Linked DNA regions of Homo sapiens: all the other regions are linked to region 3. The links come from fine-mapping of genetic effects on gene expression. A gene starts in region 3. Each other region holds a variant in brackets. All regions are shown on one strand. Distances are between the middles of the regions.

The links. PIP is the estimated chance that this variant, and not a neighbour inherited with it, causes the effect. A credible set is the group of variants that fine-mapping cannot tell apart.
Region 1: its variant is the best candidate, but not a certain one, in a credible set for the expression of WAPL-DT in unexposed skin (GTEx, PIP 0.82).
Region 2: its variant is the best candidate, but not a certain one, in a credible set for the expression of WAPL-DT in fibroblasts (GTEx, PIP 0.90).

Annotation. Positions count from the first base shown.
Region 1 is chr10:86,426,560-86,430,801 of GRCh38, forward strand. No RefSeq gene overlaps it. Among named protein-coding and RNA genes, the nearest start is that of GRID1, 62 kb to the left of the region's middle. The variant T/A (reference allele first, on the strand shown) is at 2,400.
Region 2 is chr10:86,541,701-86,545,942 of GRCh38, forward strand. The region is part of intron 3 of LOC105378408 (a long non-coding RNA gene); the gene reads left to right. Among named protein-coding and RNA genes, the nearest start is that of WAPL-DT, 22 kb to the left of the region's middle. The variant G/C (reference allele first, on the strand shown) is at 2,538.
Region 3 is chr10:86,519,537-86,523,778 of GRCh38, forward strand. It overlaps WAPL-DT (WAPL divergent transcript), which reads left to right and starts at 2,411. Exons shown (of 2, transcript NR_186498.1): 1 at 2,411-2,873; 2 at 2,973-4,242. WAPL (WAPL cohesin release factor) reads right to left here and starts at 2,256. Exons shown (of 19, transcript NM_015045.5): 1 at 1,829-2,256. RefSeq lists silencers at 1,750-2,169, 2,310-2,869.

The sequences.
Region 1 (4,242 bases), 93 kb before region 3:
CCAGCTAGTTGGGATTACAGGCGTGTGCCACCACGTGAAGCTAATTTTTGTATTTTTAGTAGAGACAGAGTTTCACCACGTTGCCCAGACTCGTCTCGAACTCCTGATCTCATGTGATTCACCAACCTCAGCCTCCCAAAGTGCTGGTATTACAGGCATGAGCCACCACATCTGGCCAGGTTTTTCTTTTTTGCTATATTATTCTAGGAATTTGCCCACTTCATTTAAGTCATAAATTCATTAGCATGCATTTATTCAGAGTAGTTAGTTAAAACTTTTTTAATCTCTAGTGTTTCTGTACTCATATATTGTCTTTTTAATATTTATTTATTTCATACAGGATAGCATGTATTGATTTTTTTTTCTTTTGAAATGGAGTTTCGCTCTTGTTGCCCAAGCTGGAGAGCAATGGGGCAATCTCGGCTCACTGCAACCTCTGCCTCCTGGGTTCAAGCAATTCTCCTGCCTCAGCCTCCCAAGTAGCTGGGATTACAGGCATGCACCACCACGCCTGGCTAATTTTTTGTAGTTTTAGTAGAAACAGGGTTTCACCATGTTAGCCAGGCTGGTCTCGAACTCCCAAGCTTGTGATCTGCCCGCCTCAGCCTCCCAAAGTGCTGGGATTACAGGCGTGAGCCACCACGCCTGGCCCACATGTATTGATTTTTATACTTACTTTTGTAATTTGTATTTTATTCCCTCCTTCTTGGTGAGTGTACTCAAAATTTAGACTTTTCAAAGAATCCATTTTTCACCAATTTTAAAAAATTTGCCATTATCTTCTTCCTTCTACTTATTAAGAGTTTATTCTATTGCTCTTACTCTGTCATTAAGATGAATAATATGTACTTTACAATTTTAGTCATTCTGTCTTTCAAATATAAGCATTTAAAGATAAAAATTTTGCTGTATCCCGTAACTTTTTTTTTTGTTTTTTGAAACGGAGTTTTGTTCTTGTTGCCCAAACTGAAGTGCAATGGCACGATCTTGGCTCACTGCAACCTCTGCCTCCGGGGTTCAAGCGATTCTCCTGCCTCAGCCTCCCAAGTAGCTGGGATTACAGGCATGTGCCACCACGCCCGGCTAATTTTGTATTTTTAGTAGAGACAGGGTTTCACCGTGTTGACCAGGCTGGTCTCGAACTCCTGACCTCAAGTGATCTGCCCGCCTCAGCCTCCCAAAGTGCTGGGATTACAGGCGTGAGCCACCGTGCCCTGCACCATGACTTTTGATATATTTTATTTTCATTGTCATCCAGTTCTAATTTATTTTTTAAATTAAAATTTTTATTTTTTTGAGACAGGGTCTCACTCTTTCACCTAGGCTGGAGTGCAGTGGCTCAATCAGGGCTCACTGCAATCTTCGACCCCTGGGTTCAAGTGATCCTCCCCGCTCAGCCTATCAAGTAGCTGGGATTACAGGCGCGTGCCACCACACTTGGCTAATTTTGTATTTTTCATAGAGATGGGGTTTTGCCATGTTCCCCGGGATGGTCTCGAACTCCTGGGCTGAGGTGATCCACCCGCCTCAGCCTCCTAAAAGTGCTGAGATTACAGGTGTGACCCACTGTCACCAGCCTAGTTCTAATTTAAAAAAAAAAAAAAAAAATTATGGCCAGGTGCGGTGGCTCACGCCAGTAATCCCAGCACTTTGGGAGGCTGAGGCGGGTGGATCATTTGAGGTCAGGAGTTTGAGACCAGCCTGGCCAACCTGTGAAACCCTGTCTCTACTAACAATACAAAAATTAACTGGGCATGATGGCATGCACCTGTAATCCCAGCTACTCGGGAGGGTGAGGCAGGAGAATCACTTGAACCCAGGAGTTGGAGGTTGCAGTGAGCCAAGATCATACCACCGCTCTCCAGCCTGGGTGACTGAGCAAGACTCCGTCTCAAAAAAAAAAAATAAAAATAAAAATAAATTATAATTGATTTAACCCATGAGTTATCAGGTTGTGTTTTTTACATTTCTAAGCATATAGAGGTTTTCATTTAACTGCTTATTACTGTCTTTTAAATAAATTGTTCTGAATGTTTTCACCTTAGATAACATTGCCTGTTCTACAATTTTGTATAAATTGATGCATATTATAGGTCTCAAACTCGTGGTCTCAAGCGATCCTCCCACCTTGGCCTCCCAAAGCACTGGGATTACAGGTGTGAGCCACTGCACATGGCTGTATTATATGTATTTTGAAAATTCAGCTTCTTCCACTGAGCGTTATGAATGTGAAATTTCTTCATGTTGTTGATTTAAAAAGTAATTCGTTCCTCTTTATTACTAAGTAGTATATTATTGCATAAATCTATCAATTTGTTTATTGTCTGCGGACGGACATTTGAGTTGTTTCCAGTGTTTGGCTATTTGTTGATAAAATGACTGTGAACATTTTCCACAAC[T/A]TTTTCTGTTGAATATTTTCATTTCTTCTGGATAAAGTGAAATTGTTAGGTTGAAGAACAGATAAATATATATATAATATATATTATATATATTTTATATATAAATATATAAAATATAATATATATTATATATAAATATATAAAATATAATATATATTATATATATAAAATATAAAATATATATATATATATATTTTAGCTGTGGCCCAGGCTGGAGTGCAGTGGTACAATCATGGCTTATTGTAGCTTCAACCTCCTGGGCTCAAGCAATCCTCCTGCCTCAGATGGGACTACAGGCATGTGCCACTATGCCCAGCTTTTATCTATCTATCTATCTATCAATCTATCTATCTATCTATCTATCTATCTATTCATTGGCAAAGATGAGGTCTCACCACATTACCCAGGCTGGTTTTGAACTCTTGCCCTCAAGTGATCCTCCTGCCACGGCCTCCCAAAGTGCTGGGATTGCAGGCATGAGCCAGTGCACTCAGCCCAGACAGGCATAACTTTATTCTCACAAGGAATTGACAAAACTCGTCCAAAGTGGTGTTATGATTTTACATTCCCAACAGCATTAAAAAAAAGTTCCAGTTGTTGATGTGCCACCATTTGGTGCTGTCATCTTTTGAACTGGCCATTCTACTGAATACACAATAGCATCTCATTGTAATTTATGGGTTTTTTTATCTTTTTTTTTTTTTTTTTTTTTTGAGATGGAGTCTCACTCTGTCTCCAGGCTGGAGTGCAGTGGCAAGATCTCTGCTCACTGCAACCTCTGCCTCCCGGGTTCAAGCAATTCTCCTGTCTCAGCCTCCCCAGTAGCTGGGATTACAGGTGCATGCCACCACACCCAGCTAATTTTTGTATTTTTAGTAGAAACGGGGTTTCACCATGTTGGCCGGGATGATCTCAATCTCCTGACCTCGTGATCCACCTGCCTCGGCCTCCCAAAGTTCTAGGATTACAGGCATGAGCCACCACACTTGGCCACTTTTTATTTTATTTATTTATTTATTTTTGAGATGGGAGTCTCCCTCTGTCACCCAGCCTGGAGTGCAATGGCACGATCTCGGCTCACTGCAACCTCTGCCTCCGGGGTTCCAGTGATTCTCCTGCCTCAGCTTCCTAAGTAGCTGGGATTACAGGCATCTGCCATCACGCCCGAAGAATTTTTGTATTTTTAGTAGAGATGGGGTTTCACCATGTTGGTCAGGCTGGTCCTTGAACTCCTGACCTCGTGATCCACCTGCCTCAGCCTCCCAAAGTGCTGGGATTACAGGCATGAGCCACCACGCCTGGCCAATTTTTATTTTATTTTTGAGACGAGGTCTGGCTCTATCTCCCAGGCTGGAGTACAGTGGCATGATCTCCACTCACTGCAGCCTCCATCTCCTGGGCTCAGGTGATCCTTCCACCTTAGCCTCCCAAGTAGCTGGGACTACAGGCACAGGCTGTCACGCTCAGCTAATTTTTTGTGTTTTAGTAGAGACGGGGTTTCATCATGTTGCCCAGGCTGGTCTCGAACACCTGAGCTCAGGCAATCTGCCTGCCTCAGCCTCCCAAAGTGCTGGGATTACAGGCCTGAGCCACCACGCCTGGCCTCGTTCTTTCTTTTTGTAGTAGCTTTATAGTTTTAGCTTTTACATTGAGATCTATGATCCATATGGAATTAATTTTTATGTTTAGCATAAGGTAAGGGTCAAGATTTTTTTTTTAAATATGGGTATTCACTTGTTTCATAACCATTTGTTAAAAATATTTTAATTTCTACATTAAATTGCTCTGGTGCCTCTGTCAAAAATCAGTTGACCGTGTATCTGTTGACCTATTTCTAGGCTCT
Region 2 (4,242 bases), 22 kb after region 3:
TGAGGCGGGTGGATTGCTTGAGCTCAGAAGTTCAAGGCCAACATGGGCAGCATGGTGAAACCTCATTTCTACAAAAACTACAAAAATTAGCCAGGCATAGTGGCACATGTCTGTGGTGCCTGTCTGTAGTCACTGTTACTCAGGAGGCTAAAGTAGAAGGATCACTTCAGTCCAGGAGGTTGAGGCTGCAATGAACCAAGATCGCACCCCTGCACTCCAGCCTTGGCAACAGAATGAGACCCTGTCTCAAAAACAGCAAAAACAAAGACAAATGGAAAAGAGCTCCCAGTGGCCAAAGCAGGAACAATTTAAGAAACAAAATCAATAATATTGGATTATGAACCAAAGTATAAAATAAATATCTGTGAGTCTGTACCAATATAAATACATGATTGAATAGATAAAAGGAGAATTACAGATAAATCTCCCATGCAGAAGAATACCAAATAATTAATATGGCTACTGTGCCCTCAGGGAAGGGAACATTACTCCACACTCCTTCAGTGTAGGTTGTACTTAGTGACTTCCTTCCAAAGAGTACATATAGAAAAAGAGAAAAAAAAACTGCATGGAGAAATCTGACAAATACTACCTCAGCCAAGTGATCAAGTCATTGATATGTCATATTGATAGGTCATTTTGAGAGTATATACCCTAAAATACAAAAATTAGCCGGGGGTGGCAGTGGGCACCTGTAATGCCAGCTACTATGGAGGCTGAGGCAGGAGAATCACTTGAGCCTGGGAGGTGGAGGTAGCAGTGAGCCGAGAGAGATCAAGATCGCACCACTGCACTGCAGCCTGGGCAACAGAGAGACTCCGTCTCAAAAAAAAAAAAAAAAAAAAAAAAAAAAGGGGAGAGTATGTACCCTTGATATGATGTGATGAAAATGGGACTTTGGGACTTTGGTCGGGCATGGGGGCTCACACCTGTAATCCCAGCTCTTTGGGAGACTCAGGCTGGTGGATCACGAGGTCAGGAGTTCAAGACCAGCCTGGCCAATATGGTGAAACCCCGTGTCTACTAAAAATACATAAGTTAGCTGAGTGTGGTGGTGCATGCCTGTAGTCCCAGCTACTCGGGAGGTTGAGGCAGGAAGAATTGCTTGAACCTGGGAGGCAGAAGTTGCAGTGAGTCGAGATCACGCCACTGTACTCCACCCTGGGCGACAGAGCAAGACTCCATCTAAAAAAAAAGAAGAAGAAAATGGGACTTTACCTTGTGGTTCTACTCCTAAAAATCCACACCCTTAGTTCAACCATGAGAAAAACACCAAATAAATTCTATTAGATATACTACAAAACACTGAACTTGGCCGGGTGCAGTGGCTCACGCCTGTAATCCTAGCACTTTGGGAGGCCAAGGTGGGCAGATCACTTGAGGTCAGGAGTTCAAAACCAGCCTGGCCAACTGGTGAAACCCTGTCTCTACTAAAAATACAAAAAAATTAGCTGTGCATGGTGGTGGACGCCTGTAATCCCAGCTACTCAGAAGGCTGAGACAGGAGAATCACTTGAACCTGGGAGGTGGAGGTTGTAGTGAGCTGAGATCACGCCACTGCACTCCAGCCTGGGTGACAGAGCAAGACTCTGTCTCAAAAAAGAAAAAAAACAAAACACAACACAACAACAACAACAAAAACACTGAACTTAAAGTACCCCTTAAAATTGTCATGGTCGGCCAGGTGCAGTGGGGTCATACCTGTCATTCCAGCACTGTGGGAGGCTGAGGCAGGTGGATAGTTTGAGCTCAGAAGTTCAAGACCAGCGTGGGGAACATGGTGAAACCCCATCTCTACAAAAAATACAAAAAAATTAGCCAGTGTAGTGGTGCACACATGTAGTCCCAGCTACTCAAGAGGCTGAGGTGGGAGGATGGCTTGAGCCCGGGAGGTGGAGGTTGCAATGGGCCAAGATCAGTCCACTGTACACCAGGCTGGGTGACAGCCAGACCCTGTCTCAAAAAAAAAATTGTCACAGTCATTAAAATAAGGAAAGTCAGACAAACTGTCCCAGCTAAGAGCAGCTTAAGGGGACGTGACAAGTAAATGTAATATGGTATCCTGGATGGGCTCCTGCCACATGAGAAGGCTATTAGGTAAAAATCAAGAAAAGCTGAATAAAGTATGGACTTTAGTTAGTGATATTATATCCATATTTGTTCATTAATTTTAACAAGTATACCATACTAAGGTAAGATATTAATAATAGGGGAAACTGGATGTAAGGTATATGGAAATTTTCTGTACTATTTTGTCAATTTTTCTGCAAATCTTTTTTTTTTTTTTTTAGATGGAGTTTCGCTCTGTCCCCGAGCCTGGAGTGCAGTGGCGTGAGCTCGGCTCCCAGCTCACTGCAACCTCCACCTCCCGAGTATCTGGGATTACAGGCGCCCACCACCATGCCCGGCTAGTTTTTGTATTTTTAGTAAAAACGAGGTTTTACCATGTTGGCCTGGCTGGTCTCAAACTCCTGACCTCAAGTAATCTGCCGGCCTCAGCCTCCCAGAGTGCTGGGATTACAGGCATGAGTCACCAT[G/C]CTCGGCCAATTTTTCTGTAAATCTAAAACTGTTCTAAAAATAAAGTCGGTTTATTTATTTATTTATTTAGAGACAGAGTCTCACTCTGTCACCCAGGCTGGAGTGCAGTGGCACAATCTCTGCTCACTGCAACCTCCGCCTCCCAGATTCAAGCGATTCTCTTGCCTCAACCTCCCGAGTAGCTGGGACTACAGGCACGTGCCACCACACCCAGCTAATTAAGTCTGTTATTTTTAAAATTACATCTGTTTGTTTGGGTTTGATTTTTGAGACGGAGTCTTGCTCTGTCACCTAGGCTGGAGTGTAGTTGCACAATCATGGCTTACTGTAGCCTTCACCACCTGGGCTCAATCAATCCTCCTGCCTCAGCCTCCCAAGTAGCAGGGACTACAGGCATGCACCACCATGCCCAGCTAATTTTTATATTTTTTTTTTGTAGAGATGGGTCTCACTGTGTTGCCCAGGCTGGCTGGCTATTTTTTTCTGTTTTCTGTAGAGACAGGGGTCTCACTATGTTGCCCAGGCTGGTATCAAACTCCTGGACTCAAGCAATCCACTCACCTCAGCCTCCCAAAATGTTGGGATTACAGGCATGAGCCACCACACTTAGCCTAAAAGCTACATCTGTTTTAATATGAACTACCTAGTACCTGGCAAGAAGATGGGCTGAGGGGAGGTCCTGCAGACTGAAGCCTCAGAGCCTCAGAGCATCCACCTCTGTTAGTGCATCCAGTATTCCTGACATAGAAAGAGGAATATTATCCTATTTTTTTTTTCCAGACAGGGTCTCACTGTGTTGCCCAGGCTGGAGTGCAGTGGTGCGATCTCGGCTCACTGCAATCTCTGCCTCCTGGGTTCAAGCGATTCTTATGCTTCAGCCTCCTGAGCAGCTGGCATTACAGGCGCCTGCCACCATGCCCCCCTAATAATCCGGCGAGGGATACTATTCCTTTTTAAATGACTGGCAGTTAGGACTGTTTGTTTTGTTTGCAACAACCATGTAAAGGCAAAGCCACCCATGTGGTTTGGAAGGGCAGGAACTGGTCCTGTGCCAAGGTGTGCCTTCTCTCTCTGTGGTGGAGGGGGTGGTGGGGCCTGCAGGGAACTGGGCAAACTCAGGCCCTGCCAAAAGGGATGACAGATGCTCCCCTCCAGCTGACAATAGCCGTGGGACAGAGAGGACCCAGAACTGCCAGATCTTTCCATATTTCAAAAGAAATGATTAATCTAGCTTTTCATGTGAAGTCTCCTGATTTTTAAATGTTGCCAACTAATTCTAACTTTATTTAAACACTGCTCACTATATAAACAATATTCATCTAGCTCACTATACAATACACATCCAGGCAAGTGCTACCTAGATTGAGTTACTCAAGGGCGGGATAATCTGGCTTTATTCTTTCTGTGACCCTCAGGACCCTGCACAGCACCTGATGCGTGATTCCTACTCCAAAATATATATGGAATAGTGAACAAAATAATACAGTTAGGGAAATGAGACATAAATATATTGACAATTATTTATTTATTTATTTTGATATGGAGTTTCACTCTTGTCATCCAGGCTGCAGTGCAATGGCATGATCTCATTTCACTGCAACCTGCATCTCCCGTGTTCAAGTGATTATCCTGCCTCAGACTCCCGAGTAGCTGGGACTACAGGAACGTGCCACCATGTCCAGCTAATTTTTGTATTTTTGGTAG
Region 3 (4,242 bases):
AAGGTAATAATTTAGTCATCATACATATCTGCGTTAAGAGAAAACAGTGTTCCTGAAGGAGATGTATTTCATCTTCCACTGCAGCTCTAACACTAACAAGTCTTACTGTCTTTCTTGTTAAGTACAGCCTAAACAAAACAGGATACTGGGCAACTACCACGGACAACAAAATAAAAATCGATTCTCTGTTCCTTCAAGAATGTAAAGCTGAGATCCTGCAGGTCTGTAAGTGTACGTACACATACACACCAACAAAGATGGAATGTTTTGGATTCACTTATGTGCTAATCATCTAAAAATACTAACCAAAGGCCAAACCAAAAATCTAGACTTGAGTTCCTTTATGCCAACATCAGAAAAACTGTTAAAATGGTTCTATAACCACAAAGCATTCACTGTTGAAAGTTTGAAGTCTTCAGATGAATACCTGACACTAAGGACTTAATTATTTTATGTGATAAAAAATAATTTTGTGCTGGCTGGGGGCGGCAGGTCACGCCTGTAATTCCAGCACTCTGGGAAGCCAAGACGGGCAGATCACCTGAGGCCAGGAGTTCGAGACCAGCCTGACCAACATGGAGAAACCACGTTTCTACTAAAAATAGAAAATTAGCCGGGCGTGGTGGCGCATGCCTGTAATCCCAGCTACTCCGGAGGCTGGGGCAGGAGAATCAATTGAACCTGGGAGGCGGAGGTTGCGGTGAGCTGAGATCGCGCCACTGCACTCCAGCCTGGGCAACAAGGGCGAAACTCCGTCTCAAAATAATAATAATAATGATAATAATAATTTTGTGCCAAAAGACCACGTCTTTTACAAATACATAGTGAAATACTGATGAAATAACGTCAGCGATTTTCCAACATTAAGGAATGAGAAGTGTATAGATGAAATAAATTTGTTTAATAGTCACTGCTAAATCCAAGCGATGGGTACAGAGAAGTTCATTATATAATATCTCCTCCTGATTGCCTTTATCGTTTCCCACAATAAAATGTCTTTGCAATGGCATTATCTAAGCGTAAAGCACTACAGATTCCAAAATAAGTGTGCAGACGTCCTTGAAGTTAAATTTTAAGTGTTTCAAGTACACAATCTTGCTCAACCTTTAAACTCCAAAGACTGTCCTAACTAAAAAGGAAAGAATGATTGACGACTAAGTCTTTTCGGTCGTTCGGCTTTTGCCCTAGCCCAAAATCAGGTCGAATTTTGAGAGAAGTGCGCTGTGATTTAAAAAAAAAAAAAAAAAAAAAAAAGCAAAAAGCCTTTATACTTCACTCCCACCCTAATCTAGCGTCTTCCCGATCCCCAAAGGCTTTAAGGGCTTCCATTAAAGATGGAAAGCGGACGGGACGAACCTGACTAACCAGAAATCCTCACCTGGGGACAGCCGGGGCGCCACGGGCAGTGGGCGCGATGGACCCCTCGGACTAGACACTCAATGCAACTTTTCTCCTCCCAACCCGCGCCGCCCAGGAAAGGGAGGTCACTTTCGACGCCCCGGAAGCCTCTGCCACCGAATCCTTAAGGCAGTGCAAGGCCCCAGTGGCGGCCAGAGGCGGATGAAACCACGGGAAAGGACTCGGGGCTGAAATCAACACACTTGACTGGGTTTGGGGAGCTAAGTCAATCAGCAGTCGCCCGAAAAAGAACTCCGAAAAAGGAAAATAAAAGGGGAAAAAAAGAGTTCCTCAGGTCATTCCCCTGCCCAACTTCCTCAGCGGCCCGGTGGGCGAGGCAGTGAGACTTCCACCGCCCGCTCCCAGCCTCTGCCTCCCCCACCCTCCCGGCTCCCTCCCGGCCTAGGCGGCCGCCCGACACCTCACTTACCCTCGGAGCCTGGCGGGTGCTTTGGCCACGGGCCGCCTCCGCCTCTCCCGCTCCCTACGGCCCGCGGGCGGGCGCGGAACCCTCGCGCGGGAGAGCAGGGCCGGCAGGTGAGAGCCGAGAGAGGCGAGGGACTCTGCTTTCGGTAAATAGGAAGCCCGGTTGGGGGGGCAGGAGCGGCGGCCCCGCAACTTCCCTCCCCGCCTCGAGCGCCGCCGGCCGGGCCCAGGCCTAGCTCTCGCTGGCCGCCACTGCTGGAGCTGGTAACAGAGCCTGCTGTGTGCCCCCGCTGGGCCGCCGCCGCCTCCTGCGCCGCCGCTTCCGCCGGTGAATGGTCAGTGCTGGAGTTTGAACAGGGCCCTGAACCATCTCAACGCCATTTGCGCTCCCGGCCCCCACCTCCTTCCTCCAACAGCCGCTCGCTCCGTCACTCCGCTTCCCACAGTCCCCGCGCGGCCGCCCGACCCCGCAGCCAATCGCGCAGCCGCTTACTCAAACCGCCGCGCAGGCGCTGCGCCCCGCATGCTCCGGCGCCCGCCATTGGCCCGGCCGCGGAGCCCGACGGGAGTTGTAGTCCAGGTCCGCGAGGTCGCGGGCCGAGGACCAGGCGCGGGAGCGGGAGCGGGCGACTGGCCGGGCCCTCCCGGTCTCGGCAGCCACTTCTAGCTCCCGGCCCAGCCGGGAGACGCAGGTGCCACGGAGATGGGCAGCCGGGCGGGTGGCGCAGTGCAGGCAGCTGTATCAATCGCTTCCCCTCCAGGGACCCGCCGGTGCCTGGGGACCGCGGGCTGTGCAGCTGTGCCGGGCCTGCGGAGGCCGCCGCCCGGGAGCTGGGAGGCAGGGGGCGCGTGGTCAAGAGCCGCCCTCGACCTGGCCTGGTCGGTCCTGGCCCGGCGTAGGTGACGATGGCGGGGACCGCGAGGCGCCGGACACCCGAGGCCACGAGCAGCGTCGCCCCTCGCTTTTTCGCGCCCCTCCAGCCCTGCAGTCCTTCCTCTAAGTCCGTCTGCCCCTCACCGATTGAAAGTGGCCCCGAGAATATTGGATGGTATTGAGCAATTATCATTAACTTTGTTGGGTGTGGTAACGGTAATGTGGTTATGGTTTTTTGTTTTTTTTTTTTTAAGACCTACTGATGTGTTGACAGAGTGATCTGGTGTCAGGACTGTAAAATACGCCTATGAAAACTGGGGGAGAGGAATAAAACAAGCTGGCAGAACGTTTTTCATCGTTGAAGCTGCGTGATGCGAGCATATGTGCTCATCATACAGTCTCTTTACTTGTGTATCTGAAATTTTCCATAATAAAAAGTTTAAAGAAGTGAACCAGCGATTGCCTCTAGGGAGGACAGTGAGGTGGCGGATGACGGGAGGAAGGAGTCTTAATTTTTCGCTGTACGCCTTTTTGTGCTATCTTAGGTTTTTCCCATTCAATGTGTTACCTAATTCAGAAAATTGGTAAGTTTTTTTTAAGGCTACCATGGGAAAACAGCGTTCTAAAGAGTAGCGCAACCAGTTCCCCCTAAGAGAGGTGCATGATTCGTCGGACTCCGACAGCCTTGGTGTTTGTTAGGCGGTTAATGGAGACCCACCTGGGAAATTAGAAAACTACTAATTGCTTTCAGTGAGAAGCCCGCCCTTCTCCCACAAATGGATAATTTGCTTTTAATGCACCCAGAAGTTATCCAGCTCCCTCCGGTATAATCGGGGAAACTCCAAATAAAGGAAAAATAGTTCAGAGACCCTGCAGCTCTTCCCAAGAGGAATTTAAGGTGGATTTTAGTGTGGTTGGATTGTTTTGCCTACCTGACTGCAGAATTTATATTCTGACATTTACAATTTCCTAAATACTGAATCAGTACTTTTTCTTGTTTCAAAATAAATCAACTTCTTCTGTAGTTTATATGAAAAACAAGTCCATGTCTTCCACTGTGGGTGGGATGCACATGACTGTTTTATTTGGGTCAGTTTTGTCTCTTTTTTTAATTGGCAGTTTAGGAACTTGTTTTTATCATTTTGTTTAAAGATCTTCTGGCAGAGGTGCAGGCTGCACTTACTATAATTATTTAGATGACAAGGTGGTGGGTGGTAATTAAAGGGTAATTATCATCAGAGGCAAAAGGTAAGATCAAAAAACCAGAAGAGGTGAGGAAACAATTGCAAGATCTTCCTGTAGGAGGGTGTCGTGATCCTCCCAAGACCAAAGGATATGTCTATTATGCCTGGCCTCTCTAGTGCTGGACACTTGGCAGGGTCAGTGCCTGCATGAGGCTGAAGTGGAAGGGCTTATTGTTTAGACTGGTGCCTTTTGAGGGCTTTTATGTGATGGTTGTGTTAAGTAATGAAACTTAGTAGTGTCAAATTCTTGCCACTCAAAGAATGATCCCCAATCAGCAGTGTAGCATCACCTGGAAGCCT